Linked DNA regions of Homo sapiens. The protein of the gene in region 1 interacts with the protein of each later gene in a pairwise test. Each region holds a gene or a part of one and is shown in the gene's direction. Other genes may lie near its edges.

Region 1 (3,055 bases):
TGCCTGTAATCCCAGCTATTCGGCAGGCTGAGACATAAGAATTGCTTGAACCAGCCAGGTGCGGTGGCTCATACCTGTAATCCTAGCATTTTGGGAGGCTGAGGCGGGCGGATCACCTGAGGTCAGGAGTTCGAGACAGCCTGACCAATATGATGAAACCCCGTCTCTACTAAAAATACAAAAATTAGCCAGGCGTGGTGGCATGCGCCTGTAATCCCAGCTACTCGGGAGGCTGAGACAGGAGAATCGCTTGAACTGGGGAGGTGGAGGTTGCAGTGACCGAGATCGCATCATTGCACTCCAGCCTGTGCAACAAGAGCAAAACTCCATCTCCAAAAAAAAAAAAAAAAAAGAATTGCTTTTGAACCCAGGAGGCGGAGGTTTCAGTGAGCCGATATTGCACCACACTGCAGCCTGGGCAACAGAGGGAGGGAGACTCTGTCTCAAAAAAAAAAAAAGAATTCCAATTCTCAAATCAAATAGGGGATAGTATGTTTTCTAAAAGGGAATCAATTTTGGACCCTTCTAGTGCATTTTAAAATTTAGTTTGACTTGCAATTTACTTCCTATGTGATATTTTAGAAAAACTGCTTTAGGGCTGGCACAGTGACTCGCCTGTCATCCCAGCACTTTGGGAGGCTCCGTCTCCAAAAAAAAAGAAAAAAAAGAAAAGAAAAACTGCTTTAATGTAAAAGAGGGTAGACTGATGTTCATGCTGAGAGGAGAATATGGTGTCCAAGGTCAAGGAGCTGGCATCTAATGAAGGTTTTCTTGCTGTATCATCCCATGACAGAATGGAATAGCAAGAGAGTGCAAGAGTGAGAGAGAGCAAGAGGGGGCTGATGTTGATTTTATAACAAACCCACTCCTGAGATAAGACATTAATCTGTTCATGAGGGTGAAGCCCTCATGACCTAAACACCTCCCATTAGGCCTCACCTCCCAACATTGTTGCATCGAGGATTAAATTTCCAACATACGAACTTTGGGGGACACATTCAGATCACAGCAGAAGGTAACATGAGATGGATGTGTTGTTGATCAGGCATTTACCATATGCTGGGCACATATGTTTTCTGATTTAGTCTTCATGCCAGCCTTGAGAAGTACTTACTCCTGTTCTCGTGGTTGTTAGTGATGAGCAACCTAAGGCTTGGAGAGGTTCAGTGATGTGCCTGATAGCATACAGTGATGCCACTGGAATTTTAACTTGAGTCTCTCTGACCCCTGAGTGCAGATACTTTCTCCTTTACATTGAATTTCCTATTAAGGATATATGGGTTTGGTGAAGAATGGACGGAAGGATAGCTGCCATGACTCTAAAGGGGCATTTAAATCTGGTGTGGAGGCAGGAAGCAAGGGAGAACTTGAGGTTCCCAACCCCCAAGCCCTTAAAAAAAGCCCGTGATCTGTTTTGCAGACTAAAGATAATCAGTTAGGGCCTGGCGTGGTGGCTCACACCTGTAATCCCAGCATTTTGGGAGGTCAAGGTGGGTGGATCATCTGAGGTCAGGAGATGGAGACCAGCCTGGCCAACGTGGTGAAACCCCGTCTCTACTAAAAATACAAAATTTAGCTGGGTGTGATGGCGCATGCCTGTAGTCCCAGCTACCAGGGAGGCTGAGGCGAGAGGATGGCTTGAACTCGGGAGGTGGAGGTTGCAGTGAGCGGAGATCGAGCCACTGCACTCCAGCCTGGGTAACAGAGCAAGACCCTGTCTCAAAAAAAGATAATTAGCCGGGTGTAGTGGTGCACACCTGTAGTCCTAGCTACTGAGAATCTGAGGCAAGAGGATTGCTTGAGCCTGGGAGTTTGAGGCCGCAGTGAGCTATGATCATGCCATTGCACTCCAGCCTGGGTGACAGAAAGACCCTGTCTCAAAACAAACAACAAAACCAACAAAAAGATAATTGGAACCAATTAATAGAATTAAAAAAGTATTCTGATAAGGGAAGGTCACCTCAGGGTCTGTTAGACTTCCACAACAAAAGTCTTCCATTTGGATAGGAAAGGACAGGGCGAGGGTTGGATCCCTACCACGGAGTGATTATATGGCCATGTAATTTTACTTTGGCAAGTGATGATAACTGGTGGCTGAATGATGGGGCTTCTGGGCAGCCAGTCTCCACATCTGTGTGTGTCTCTGATGTGTGTGATATGCGTCATACAGTGCAGTACCACAGAGCTGGAAAAACCATGGGACCCTGTTAGATTTTAACAAGCGTATATGCAGTACAAGAGAGAACACAGCCAAACTGAGTTGAAACTGCTAAGCAGATGGTTTGTTCTCTAGCTAACTTGATTCGTTCCCACATATTAGCCTTGCAGTATGAGAGGTTCTAATTCATTTTTCAGCAAAATTATTTATTACTAGATGTCATGCACTTTTGGGTGATTTGCAGATACCTTTGGTAATCACATGGTCATCACTGCTGGGCTTTTATCCTCTGAATAAACGTGAAGCATCCCTGGGTAATGGCCTGGTTTAGTTTGCTGCTCATTAAATGCCAAGACTTGCTTCCTGGTGTCCTTCTAACATTTTATTTGGGGTTTGCTCTGGGAATGGAAATTTATTGTATTGTTGATTTTCCTGTCTAAAATGAGATAGTTGAGGGCCAGGCATGGTGGGTCACGCCTGTAAGCCCAGCACTTTGGGAGGCGGAGGCTGGAGGATCACTTGAGTCCAGGAGTTTGAGACCAGCCTGGGCAACATAGTGAGACCCTATCTCTACAAATAATTTTTTAAAATTAGCCAGGTATGGCTGGGCGCGGTGGCTTACGCCCGTAGTCCCGGCCCTTTGGGAGGCCAAGGCAGGCAGATCACCTGCGGTCACCTGAGACCAGCCTGGCCAACATGGCGAAACCCTGTTTCTACTAAAAATACAAAAATTGGCCAGGCATGATGGCCGCCACCTGTAATCCCAGCTACTTGGGAGGCTGAGGCAGGAGAATCACTTGAACCCAGGAGGTGGAGGTTGCAGTAAGTCAGGATCACGCCACTGCACTCCAGCCTGGGTGACAGAGGGAGACTCTGTCTCAAAATAAATAAATAAAT
Region 2 (3,852 bases), about 44 Mb from region 1:
TCCAAGAAAAGTGATTCTTAAGTTGAGTCCAAGATCAAGATATGATGTTTGCTTTGTTCTAGGAAGCGTAGGAGCCCTGCACAGCTGAGAAAGATTGGTATCCAGTTCAAATGAACTGTATGAGATGGCTGGGAAGGGACACGTTTTCTGTCCCACATATAAGTGTCCAGCAGAAAGTCTCTCTGAATCTTTTCCCTTTCTCCTGTGTGCTGTGGCAGTGATAGACTTGAATAGATGGGGACCAGGATACTGTGATTCAGAGAGTAGAGTTTGGGGTTGAGCTGAAAGCCAGGTAATGTGGTAATGTGGATCTGGGCAGGTTAGCATTTTCTGCCCTGTTCCTGAGTTAAAAACCACAAATCCCTAAATTCAGGCTAATCTTCCACTCTCAGTACCCTACAGATACTTATCCGTTTTGACCTTGCTGCTGATTTAATATTCATGACTCAGCAAACTTGGGATGGGTCAGGGAGTATTTACACTGCTTCTGGAATTGTACATTTGGGAAGGTCCCTTTCTCCTCTCTCAGAATTGGGCCCTGTTGTCAGTTTTCTTTTCTTTCTTTTCCTTTTTTTTTTATTTGAGACAGGGTCTCCCTCTGTCATCCAGGCTGGAGTACAGTGGCGTGATGTCGTCTCACTGCAGCCTCCGCCTCCCAGGTTCAAGTGATTCTTGTGCCTCAGCCTCCCGAGTAGCTGGGATTACAGGTGTGCAACACCATGCCTGGCTAATTTTTGTATTTTCAGTAGAGACGGGGTTTCGCTATGTTGGCCAGGCTGGTTTCTGACTCCTGACTTCAAGAGATTCGCCCGCCTTGGCCTCCCAAGGTGCTGGGATTACAGGCGTGAGCCACCACGCCCTCCCGTCAGTTTTCTTAAAGGATAAAATATTAGATCTGGGATCTAAGTTATTTTGTAGCTATCTGAAAATTAAGTTTGTCAGAATTTACTCTTTTTTTCCGTCCTTTTTTTTTTCATGTCAGACTGGCATCCGTAACAAGGGTTGAGGGAGGCATACCTCACCGTGAGCTTGAAACCGCAGTCATCATGCTTAAGACGTACAAAATGGCTTAAGACGTACAAAATGGCCTAATGTATTTTATTCTTTAAGTTGTACTCTCCCAAATGAAGTATTCACCGTCCAGGGCGCAATCTTCCTACTCCAAACCTCATCTGGATATCCTAATCCCCATTCCTTTCTTAATCAACATGGCATCCTCAGCTTCAGTACTTGGTTTTTACTCAGACTGTTCCTGCTCTTCTCCTAGAACCCCCTCCTTTGCTTTGGGAGTCTAGAACTAGAAGACGGTGAAGGTGGGGACCAATTTTATATCTTCTAATTTGAGGAAACCAAAGTACCTAGGAACCTGGGGCTCTCTCTTCCTCTGCTGGCTTGGTGCCAGGCTCCAGAAGCCAAAGCCAGGTGATGCTATGGCCACTGAATCAAGTTATCCTCTGGATCTAGGTGGCTCCCTAATACATTCCACCCACCTGCTCTTGCCTTCACCTGCTTATTTTCACAATGAGCGTAGACTGAGCAGAACTTGGGGCTCACTTCCACCACAGATACCCTTGGAGAAAAAAACTAGTATGGGATGAATGGGTGGAATTTAGGAGCAGAGACAGGATTGGAATATGAAGTTGGGGACAGAGCTAGTTTTGGAGACTAATTGAAGGAAAAAGACCCTGGAAATATAAGGGTTGAGTGAGATTTGGTTGAACTGCTGAGTAATGTGAGAGATTACTCCATTCTGAGCTTTGCATTTCTGCCTTGGAAGTCATGGTAGCTGGGAAAACTAGGGTAATATTGCTGCTCACCCTGGGGCCAAGCCTAACATGGTGGAGGAGAATTGGATTACACCATAGGCATAGCCGATTTGAATATATCTAGGAGTAGAAATCTCTCCACAAAAGCAGTAAATTAGTGATTCTCATCTCTGTCTCTTTTCCACTTCTTTCTGTCAGTGTAACTCCTGCCTTGATAAACTACTTCTAAGGCTTGGAGTAGACATTTTGGGTAAAGAACTGGATAAAGTCAGCGGAAGAGGCTGGTTGGAATAATTCTAGAAATCCAGACGACCCTGCAGCCTCTGCCTCCTGGCTTCAAGTGATTCTCATATCTCAGCCACCCTGAATAGCTGAGGTTACAGCCATGTGCCACCACGCCTGGCTAATTTATATATATGTGTGTGTGTGTGTGTGTATATATATACATACATGTATACATATACATGTATATATATATGTATACATATACATGTATATATATATGTATACATATACATGTATATATATGTATACATATACATGTATATATATACATATACATGTATATATACATATATATGTATGTGTATATATATGTATATGTATACATATATATATAGTAGCAATGGGGTTTTGCCATATTGGCCAGACTGGTCTCGAACTCCTGGCCTCAGCTGATCTACCGACCTCGGCCTCCAAGTGTTGGGATTACAGGGAAAAGAAGAGGGAATGGATAAAATATTAGTGGTTGTGGGAGTGGGGAGGACACTTGAGCAGGAGCTAAGGGAAGAACCCAAAAGGGAAGAGAGACCCAGGCAAGTAGAAGTAAAAGTGCCTCAGAAGACTTGAATGGAGAACAGTAGGAGTTGGCATTAAACCTGAATGAACATGCTCATAACTCAGGTTCTTTTTGAAAAAGGAAAAAAATCTGAATGAAGAGTAGAAAAAACATTTCTGGAGAAGAGAATGTCAGAGAAAGAAAAAGCATGGGTAAAAAAGAGGCCAGGAAGTACCAGTAGTAATTAAAGCCTTGGGCAGTAGTAAGGCTCTAAGAAAGAACATTCAGTCAAGAATGATCTTGACTGACTGCAGCCTCTATAGCAAGACATATCCCTAAAGACGAGAAAGGTGGCTTGTATGAAGAGTGAAATGCAGGCTTAGATTTTCCCATCGTAAGGAAATAGCAATCTGGTAAGTGTTTGTGATTGATTAGTTCTATGAGGTGGGAGCTGTGCATTTGCCAAGGGCATTTTTGGTGTTTTCTCTCCTAAGCTTAGCCTTTGTCCCTAGCAGCAAAGCTCATGAATAGTTCTTGTGTATTAGCCTTTTGAAACCTCTAATTCTTTTATTTTTGTTTATTTATTTTGTTTTTTGAGTCACGGTCTTGCTGTGTTGCCCAAGCTATGGAGTGCAGTGGTGCAATCACAGCTCATCACAGCCTCGACCTCCCTGGCTCAAGTGATCCTCCCACCTTAGCCTCCTAAATAGCTGGGACTACAGGCACAAGCCATCATACCCTGCTAATTTATAAATTTTTTGCAGAGATGAGGTTTCCCTGTGTTGTATGGGCTCTCTAATTTTTTTAAAAAACATCTTTATTGAGCTGAAATTGACATACAACAAAGTAGACATATTTAAAGTGTGCCATTTGTTAAGTTTTGACATGTATGTAACTGAGTCCATCACTGCAATCAAAGGAATGAACATTTCTGTCACTCCCAAAAGTCCTCCATCAACTACCAATCTTCTGTCATTATACATTAAATTGCCCTTCCTGATTTTCGATAGAAATGAAAAGGCAGTTCAATTCAGCTAAGAAAGGATAGTCTTGTCTTTTCTTTTCTTCTTTTCTTCTTTTTTTTTTTTTGAGGCAGAGTTTGCCCTGTTGTCCAGGCTGCAGTGCGATGGCATGATCTTGACTGACTGCAGTCTCTAACTCCTGGCTTCAAGTGATTTTCATGCCTCAGCCACCCTGAATAACTGAGGTTACAGCCATGTGCCACCACGCCTGGCTAATTTATATATTATTATTATTATTATTTTTTTTTTTTTTTAGTAGCAATGGGATTTTGCCATATTGGCCAGA
Region 3 (3,852 bases), on another chromosome or scaffold:
GAATTGCTTGAGCCCGGGAGGCAGAGGTTGCAGTAAGCCAAGATAATGCCACTGTACTCTATCCTGGGCAACAGACTGAGATTCCATCTCAAAAATAAAAAGTAACTTTTAGTCCTGCAAAAACCCCCTCCCAGGCCAGTAGTAGGATGTGGACTTCCTGAGCTCATTCTATGTGCCAGGCTCTTTGCTAAGTCATTGAAACTTACTGATCCAGGCTGAGCACAGTGGCTCACGCCTCTAATCCCAGCACCTTGGGAGGCTGAGGCAGGTGGATCACCTGAGGTCAGGAGTTCGAGACCAGCCTGGCCAACATGGTGAAACTCTATCTCTACTAAAAATACAAAAATTTGCTGAGTGTGGCAGCGGGCACCTGTAATCCCAGCTGCTTCAGAGGCTGAGGCAGGGGAATTACCTGAACTCGGGAGGTGGAGGTTGCAGTGAGCCAAGATTGTGCCACTGCACTCCAGCCTGGACTACAGAGTGAGACTCCATCTCAAAAAAAAAAAAAAAAAAAAAGAGAGAAAAAGAAACCTACTGATAACCTTAGTTAGGAGGCTGGTTTTCTTTATCTCTTCTGAGGGCTGGAAGCACTGAGGCACACAGAATGAGGGGGTGTGGCTAAAGTTCCACAATCCTCACTGTGTACCTACCCATTGCAGGGAGCACCTTTCTCTCGTTGAGTTTCCACCCTTGGGAAACACTGCCATCTCATGGCAGCAAATACCATCTCTGCACTTAACAGAACCCATATCCAGCTCTGTCACCAGATATGTGCACTGTCCTGGCACCTCAGATGCCTGCTGTATGTAACTCCTGGATATCTAATAGGCAGTACAAGCATCCCTGCCACCTTCCTGCCCTTACCTCCTTTCCCTCTCTCATCATGCCTGTCCTTACGCCAGGCCTTTGCACCATAGAGTCCCCTGCCTCAGATGCCCTTTCCCCAGAAACCTGGATGATTCCTCCCTCGCCTCCTTCACCTCCTTCAGGCCTTGGCTCAGATATCAAGATGTCACCTCAACGAGGCCTGCTCTGGCCACCCAATTTAAAGTTGCTACCTTCACCTACAGCCCTTTCTCACCATCTTTTCTGCTGTATTTCCCCCCTTAGTCCTTGGCATGTGGCCCCTCCCAGTTGTTTGTTTTTGTTTTGTTTGTTTTTGAAATGGAGTCTTGCTCCATCCCAGGCTGGAGTGCTGTGGCGCGATCTCTGCTCACTGCAACCTCTGCCTCCCAGGTTCAAGTGATTCTCCTGCCTCGGCCTCCCAAGTAGCTGGGATTACTGGTGCCCCCCACCACACCCAGCTAATTTTTGTATTTTTAGTAGAGATGGGGTTTCACCATGTTGGCCAGGCTGGTTTCGAACTCCTGACCTCAAGTGATCCACCCACCTCGGTCCCCCAAAGTGCTGGGATTACAGGCATGAGCCACCCATGCACGGCCCCTCCCAGTTTTTTTTGCTAATTTATCTTTACTTCATAGCTTGCTTCCAGCTCCCAAGGGTGAGGATTTTGTGTTTTGCTCTGTGCTGTGCCTCAGGGCCTGGAACAGAGTTGACTCACAGTAAGGCTCAGGGTGCCTACTGAGTCAAGGAGTACCCTTCTACCTATGTCAAGGCCAGGAGCGGTGGCTCACGCCTGTAATCTCAGTGCTTTTGGAGGCCAAGGCAGGAGGATTGCTTGAGGCCAGGAGTTTTAGGCCAGCCTGGGCAACATAGTGAGATCCCATCTCTACAAACAATTTTAAAAATTAGTTGGGCGTGGTGGCATGTGCCTGCAGTCCCAGCTACTTAGGAGGCTGAGGCAGGAAGATGGCTTGAGGCCAGGAGTTTGAGGCTGCTGTGGACTATTGATTGTGCCACAGCAGTCCAGCCTGGGCAACAGAGCTAATTCTATCTCTTACAAAGAAAAAAAAAAGGAGGGGGGATGTAGAGGGCGTACATGGGCTAGGGAACAGAAAGGCAGCACTGGGGGTGTCCAGTGGGAGGGGGAGGTGCTAGGCAGCCCCTGCCCAGCCTCAGGCAGCGTCCTTTCCCGGCCGCCCCAGGCATTCTCATCACCACCATCGCTTCCAAGGGTGAGCTGCAGATGTGGCCCGAGCTGCTGCCCCAGCTCTGCAACCTGCTTAACTCGGAGGATTACAACACTTGTGAGGTAGGCAAGAAGCCATGGATGGCCAGAGCGAGTACTGGGGGGCTGGGACCACCACCCACCACCCACGTTTGTCTCTCTGCCCCTCTGCACTCAGGGAGCCTTTGGAGCCCTGCAGAAGATCTGTGAAGACTCATCAGAGCTTCTGGACAGTGACGCCCTCAACAGGCCCCTCAACATCATGATCCCCAAGTTCCTGCAGTTCTTCAAGCACTGCAGTCCCAAGATCCGGTGGGTGCAGCTCCCTGGGGGCTTCCAGGGAGCCTGGAGTGGGCAGGGTCAGGGTGACCCACGTGTCTGCTCCCCGCCAGGTCCCACGCCATCGCCTGCGTGAACCAGTTCATCATGGACCGGGCCCAGGCGCTGATGGACAATATTGACACCTTCATCGAGGTGGGCCGCTGGGCTGGGGGTGGGCAGGGCGAGGACTGAGGGCCCCTACAACTGACCCTGTTCCTCCCTGCAGCACCTATTTGCCCTGGCTGTGGATGATGACCCCGAGGTGCGGAAGAATGTGTGCCGTGCCCTGGTGATGCTTCTGGAAGTGCGGATTGACAGGCTCATCCCCCACATGCACAGCATCATCCAGGTGTGCATGGTCAAGGCCAGCCCAGGCGGGCAGGCAGGGGGCCGGTGGCAGGGGTCAGGGAGCCACCCCCAGCCAGGCCAGGCCTCAGCTTCTCCCCCCTACCACAGTACATGCTGCAGAGGACCCAGGACCATGATGAGAACGTTGCCCTTGAGGCCTGTGAGTTCTGGCTGACGCTGGCCGAGCAGCCCATCTGCAAGGAAGTCCTGGCCTCCCATCTGGTCCAGTGAGTGCTGCTGCTGCCCACTGTCCTACCCCAGCTTCGACCCCTTGCTATGCCTCTGCCTTCCCTTCTGGTCACCTGCTGTGCTTCTCTCAGTCCACATCCTTGTCAGTTTACATTCAGTATATATTTATGTGTAAGTGGTAAGAATGCCACTTTTTGAAGACTTCAAAATTAGGTAACTGATAGGTGGAAAGAAATGAAAAATCAATGGCCACATGTGGTGGCTGACACCTGTAATCCTAGCACTTTGGGAGGCCGAGGCGGGCAGATCACAAGGTCAGAAGATCGAGACCAGCCTGGCTAACACGGTGAAACCCCATTTCTACTAAAAATATAAAAAAATAGCTGGGCGTGGTGGCAGGCGCCTGTAGTCCCAGCTGCTTGGGAGGGTGAGGCAGGAGAATTGCTTGAACCCAGGAGGCTGAGGTTGTAGTGAGCCAAGGTCGTGCCACTGCACTCCAGCCTGGGTGACAGAGCAAAACTCCGTCTCAAAAAAAAAAAAAAAAGAAATGAAAAATCAACAAAGGCTTCAGGGGTATGGCTGTATCCAGGAGCTCAAAGGATGTGAAAGGCATCTTTGTGGTCTCAGATCTGCTTCCCTTGTGTTGGCTTCATTCTTAGGCACAACCTTCCCTCTGGGTAGTGCTGTAGCCTTCTGTGCCCTTCCAGCTTAGGAACTTCAGAGTAAAGAAATTTTCGACCAGTGTTTCCAACAAAAGTCCTAAAACTGACCCTCCTTGACAAACTTGGATTGCTTGCCTCTCTCCAAATCATTTTTTTCTTTTTTATTTTGAGACAAGGTTTTGCTCTGTCATCCACGCTGGAGTGGAGTGTCAAAATCATGGCTCACTGCAGCCTTGACCTCCCAGCTGAAGCAATCCTCCTACC
Region 4 (3,852 bases), on another chromosome or scaffold:
GGTAGTGTATCATGAGCATTCCTGTTAGATGGTCTTTCATATTCATTAACCACATTGCACATGCTATTAATGCTTATCTAGAATAGCCTTCCCTTCTTTTTCCCCTGATATATTTCTCTTTGCTTCTTCCGACGGCTAGCTCTGTTACTTACATTTTCTGGACAATATCTAGGTGCTTTTTTCTGAGTTTTTATAGCCATATATATGTCTTTTAATTATATTTCTTAAATGTGATATTTAATGCATGTTTTTCTCCTCAGCTAAAGCTCTACTATGGCAAGAACCTACTGTGGGGTATTTTTTGTCTCCCATTTGTGCCTTAGCACTAAGTATAGAATGATATATATTTAATATATTTTATTATGTATTGGGGTAAGCAAAAGAAAAGATACATCTTGCTTTTCTCTGATTTTTTTCCCTCTACCATTTTATTGCCCACTGTGTTCCTGAAAATAAATAGCAGTTGCATTAAAATGGAAATCTCTATGGAACATAGCTTTTTCACTCTTAGCAATTCTTTTCCCTGTCTGCAAAGTTTTCTTGTTTATTTTTCACTGACCTGTTCTGATCTAAAATCAACTTTTTTTTCCCCCTTCCTTAAGCTTTTTTATTTGGGGGAACCCTTTTAGAGTAATTTTGTAAAGTATTGCTCAACTATTACCCGCCCAGAATATACATACACATATAAATGTATGTATACCTATAACCAACTTGTATTTTGGGGTGGGGTGGGACAGAAAAAACAATGTAAAGATTAAAATAGTCAGTGTTAGCATTATATAATCAAAGGCTGATAGTTTGGGGGAAGTTAACTGTACTAGAGTTTGAAATTTTAAGTCAGCTTTGAAGAAGAGATGAAGTGGACATTGTCTCTCCACTATCTTAATTTAAAATTTTACTTAGCCTGTACCAAGGCTTTTCATTCCCTTGTAACATTTTTAAGGATTTCTGGTTTTTTTATTTATTTTTATTTTTTATTGTGCATCTGAGTGGAGAATAGAGAAAAAATTGGCATGGTGAAACTAAAAATTGGTTAAAATGTATGACAGGCTTGCTAAAGGGATATTATGGCTGTCAGCTAAAATAAAAGTAAGGAGGATGGGTTGGTTCATGAATCTTACTTGCTTAAATTGTTCATATCTTTTCCACTGTCAAAGAAAATTAGATTGGTTATAAAGTTTTTACAGAGAAATTTCTTTTCCCTTAAGCTTATTTAAATATTTTATCAAATGAAGTCTGTGAGGGATATTAGAGATAAAGGAGATTTATAATACATTTATGTAACATTTCACATATCTAACTTATTTGGTACTCATCAATATTATAATTGTATTTATCCTTTTAATATATTGGGTAATATTTATCCTACTAATTTTCTCTTTTTTACTTTTAGCAAAGTGTGGGATGCTGTCTCAGGAGATGAATTGATGACCCTGGCTCATAAACACATTGTCAAGACTGTGGATTTCACGCAGGTATCAGAAAATGGAATTTATTTTAGCGAGTTAAGTTGCTGGTACATAGTGTGATAATGCTTTTATACTTGATTGGTGTGTATATTTGATTGATATGTTTTGTGTGGAATATTTGTTATTTCTTGGTTCATATTTGATTTGATTGTGTATTAAGCTCTATGAATTTGTTTCATAGTTAATCCTGTCAAGCTTTTAAGATACTGTGGAACGAGTACCAGTCCTTCAACATGTAAAAAACATCTGAAAAGCTCAAGTAGCCTTCCCCAACTACTAATAGAAGGGAGAAGATAAATTTGAGATAATCAGAAAAGGGCCTCTCACAAGGGAGAGGAGTAGGATCAGGGGAGAATGGGAGAGTTCATGTATATGTAGTGTAGTGTAACGCTTTTGAAGTGGAAAGCTTACAAGTCTTGGCAGTTATGAGAGGTCAGCTGTTCCACAGTATCTTCTCAGAAGTAATTGGTTATGTCTTGGCATCTCTTTGTGATGTCTGTGAGCTAGATTTTGATTTTATTTGGTGTTGAAATTTGAAAGAGAAATAACTATTAAAATGGTTAATCTATTCACATTTTACTTTGTGTTTTCAGGATAGTAATTATTTGTTAACCGGGGGACAGGATAAACTGTTACGCATATATGACTTGAACAAACCTGAAGCAGGTAAGCATAATTTAAACATCAGCTTCTAGTTTTATTTTCTTTTAATTTAAATAACTGATTAAAGAATTTCATGCTCAGTACTCAAATTTGGAAAATAAAGATAGTCATGGCCGGGCACGGTGGCTCATACCTGTAATCCTAGCACTTTGGGAGACTGAGGCGGGTGGATCACTTGAGGTCAGGAGTTCGAGACCAGCCTGGCCAACATGGCAAAACCCCGTCTCTATTAAAAATAGAAAAATTAGCCAGGCATGGTGGCAGGCGCTTGTAATCCCAGCTACTTGGGAGGCTGAGGCAGGAGAATCGCTTGAACCCGGGAGGTGGAGGTTGCAGTGAGCCGAGATTGCGCCACTGCACTCCAGCCTGGGCAATAAGAGTGAAACTCAGTTTCAAAAAAAAAAAAATAGTCAACAAAGAAGAAAATTAAAACGTAATTCATCAGTTTTTGGTTTATAAACTTTCAGTCTTTTTTTCTGCACAGTTTTTAAAAAATAAGTTTATTTGCTATGTTGCTATTGTATAACCTTCTTCCAAACTGAAAATTTATTATGGCAAATTTTTATCATTAAGTTTTAAAACAGTGCAGAACAGTGTTACTATTTTTTGGTAAGAAAGATTGGTTATTTATAGAAGTTGGTGATGGTGAGAATTCTCAGTTGTGTGCACATATTGCTTAGATTTTTGAACCATGTAAATATATTAGCTATTCGAAAGAATTTTAAAAAATCTGCAGTTACAGTTTTTTCATTTCACTAAATAGTCTATGAACTGTTTGTAATGACTTTCTGGTTTTCCATCCTGTGGTTATATCATAAGTGAATTAACTAGTTTCCTGTTTTGGCCCGTTTGGGCTACTTACAGATTTTAAATATGAAAAGCAGTATTATGCTAAACATCCTTACAGTTGCAAATATTTTCACAATGATTTCCTTAAGATAACTAAGCAAAAGTAGAATTGGTGGGACAAAGAGGAGTGGAATTGTTGGAAGGTGGCCGGGCGCAGTGGCTCACGCCTGTAATCCCAGTGCTTTGGGAGGCCAAGGTGAGTGGATCACCTGAGGTCAGGAGTTCAATACCAGCCTGGCCAACATGGTGAAACCCCATCTCTACTAAAAGTACAAAAAAATTAGCTGGGCATGGTGGCAGGCGCCTGTAATTCCCAGGTACTCAGGAGGGTGAGGCAGGAGAATCGCTTGAACCCGGGAGGTAGAGGTTGCAGTGAGCCGAGATTGCATACCAGCCTGGGGGACAAGAGCAAAACTCCTTCTCAAAAAGAAAAAAAAAAAATGAATTGTTGGAAGCCATTGATAGATACTACCAAAGTGTCTTCCAACAAAGTATGGGTATATATGTATGTATCTATACCCAACATGTTCTAGTGAGCACTGATAACTAACTTTCTCTTTGTCAATTTAAGAAAATAATTCTGTTGTATTAATGTGAATATTCATGAGATTAAAATGCTATTGAATACCATTTTAATATATTCCCTTTTTTATGGAATAATTGCCTGTCTACCTTTTGTCCATTTATCTGTTGTGTTATTCATGTTTTTCTTACTGGTTTTTAAAGGTTCTTTATTGAATTCTAATTTATCATTTGCTTTTAAATTTTGTTAAGGTGGTTTTATGGTATATATGTTTTTAACATTTTGGTGGTGAAATTCTTTATGCATTCTCTCATTTTACAGAAGTTATAGGTGTCTTCCCCAGTCTAC

What was found. Proteins that work in one complex are often made in the same cells at the same time.
Region 2: the proteins of NME1 (region 1) and FXR2 interact in binary tests that used the Homo sapiens proteins (3 or more experiments, as listed by UniProt).
Region 3: the proteins of NME1 (region 1) and TNPO2 interact in binary tests that used the Homo sapiens proteins (3 or more experiments, as listed by UniProt).
Region 4: the proteins of NME1 (region 1) and STRAP interact in binary tests that used the Homo sapiens proteins (3 or more experiments, as listed by UniProt).

Annotation. Positions count from the first base shown.
Region 1 is NC_000017.11:51,156,559-51,159,613, forward strand, and holds part of NME1 (nucleoside diphosphate kinase A), read left to right. Parts: intron 1-3,055. UniProt on the Homo sapiens protein: Major role in the synthesis of nucleoside triphosphates other than ATP. The ATP gamma phosphate is transferred to the NDP beta phosphate via a ping-pong mechanism, using a phosphorylated active-site intermediate.
Region 2 is NC_000017.11:7,608,398-7,612,249, reverse strand, and holds part of FXR2 (RNA-binding protein FXR2), read left to right. Parts: intron 1-976; exon of another isoform or gene 977-1,069; intron 1,070-3,852. UniProt on the Homo sapiens protein: mRNA-binding protein that acts as a regulator of mRNAs translation and/or stability, and which is required for adult hippocampal neurogenesis. Specifically binds to AU-rich elements (AREs) in the 3'-UTR of target mRNAs.
Region 3 is NC_000019.10:12,713,933-12,717,784, reverse strand, and holds part of TNPO2 (transportin-2), read left to right. Parts: intron 1-2,045; coding exon 2,046-2,152; intron 2,153-2,246; coding exon 2,247-2,380; intron 2,381-2,460; coding exon 2,461-2,542; intron 2,543-2,615; coding exon 2,616-2,738; intron 2,739-2,845; coding exon 2,846-2,964; intron 2,965-3,852. UniProt on the Homo sapiens protein: Probably functions in nuclear protein import as nuclear transport receptor. Serves as receptor for nuclear localization signals (NLS) in cargo substrates.
Region 4 is NC_000012.12:15,888,535-15,892,386, forward strand, and holds part of STRAP (serine-threonine kinase receptor-associated protein), read left to right. Parts: intron 1-1,393; coding exon 1,394-1,475; intron 1,476-2,062; coding exon 2,063-2,135; intron 2,136-3,852. UniProt on the Homo sapiens protein: The SMN complex catalyzes the assembly of small nuclear ribonucleoproteins (snRNPs), the building blocks of the spliceosome, and thereby plays an important role in the splicing of cellular pre-mRNAs.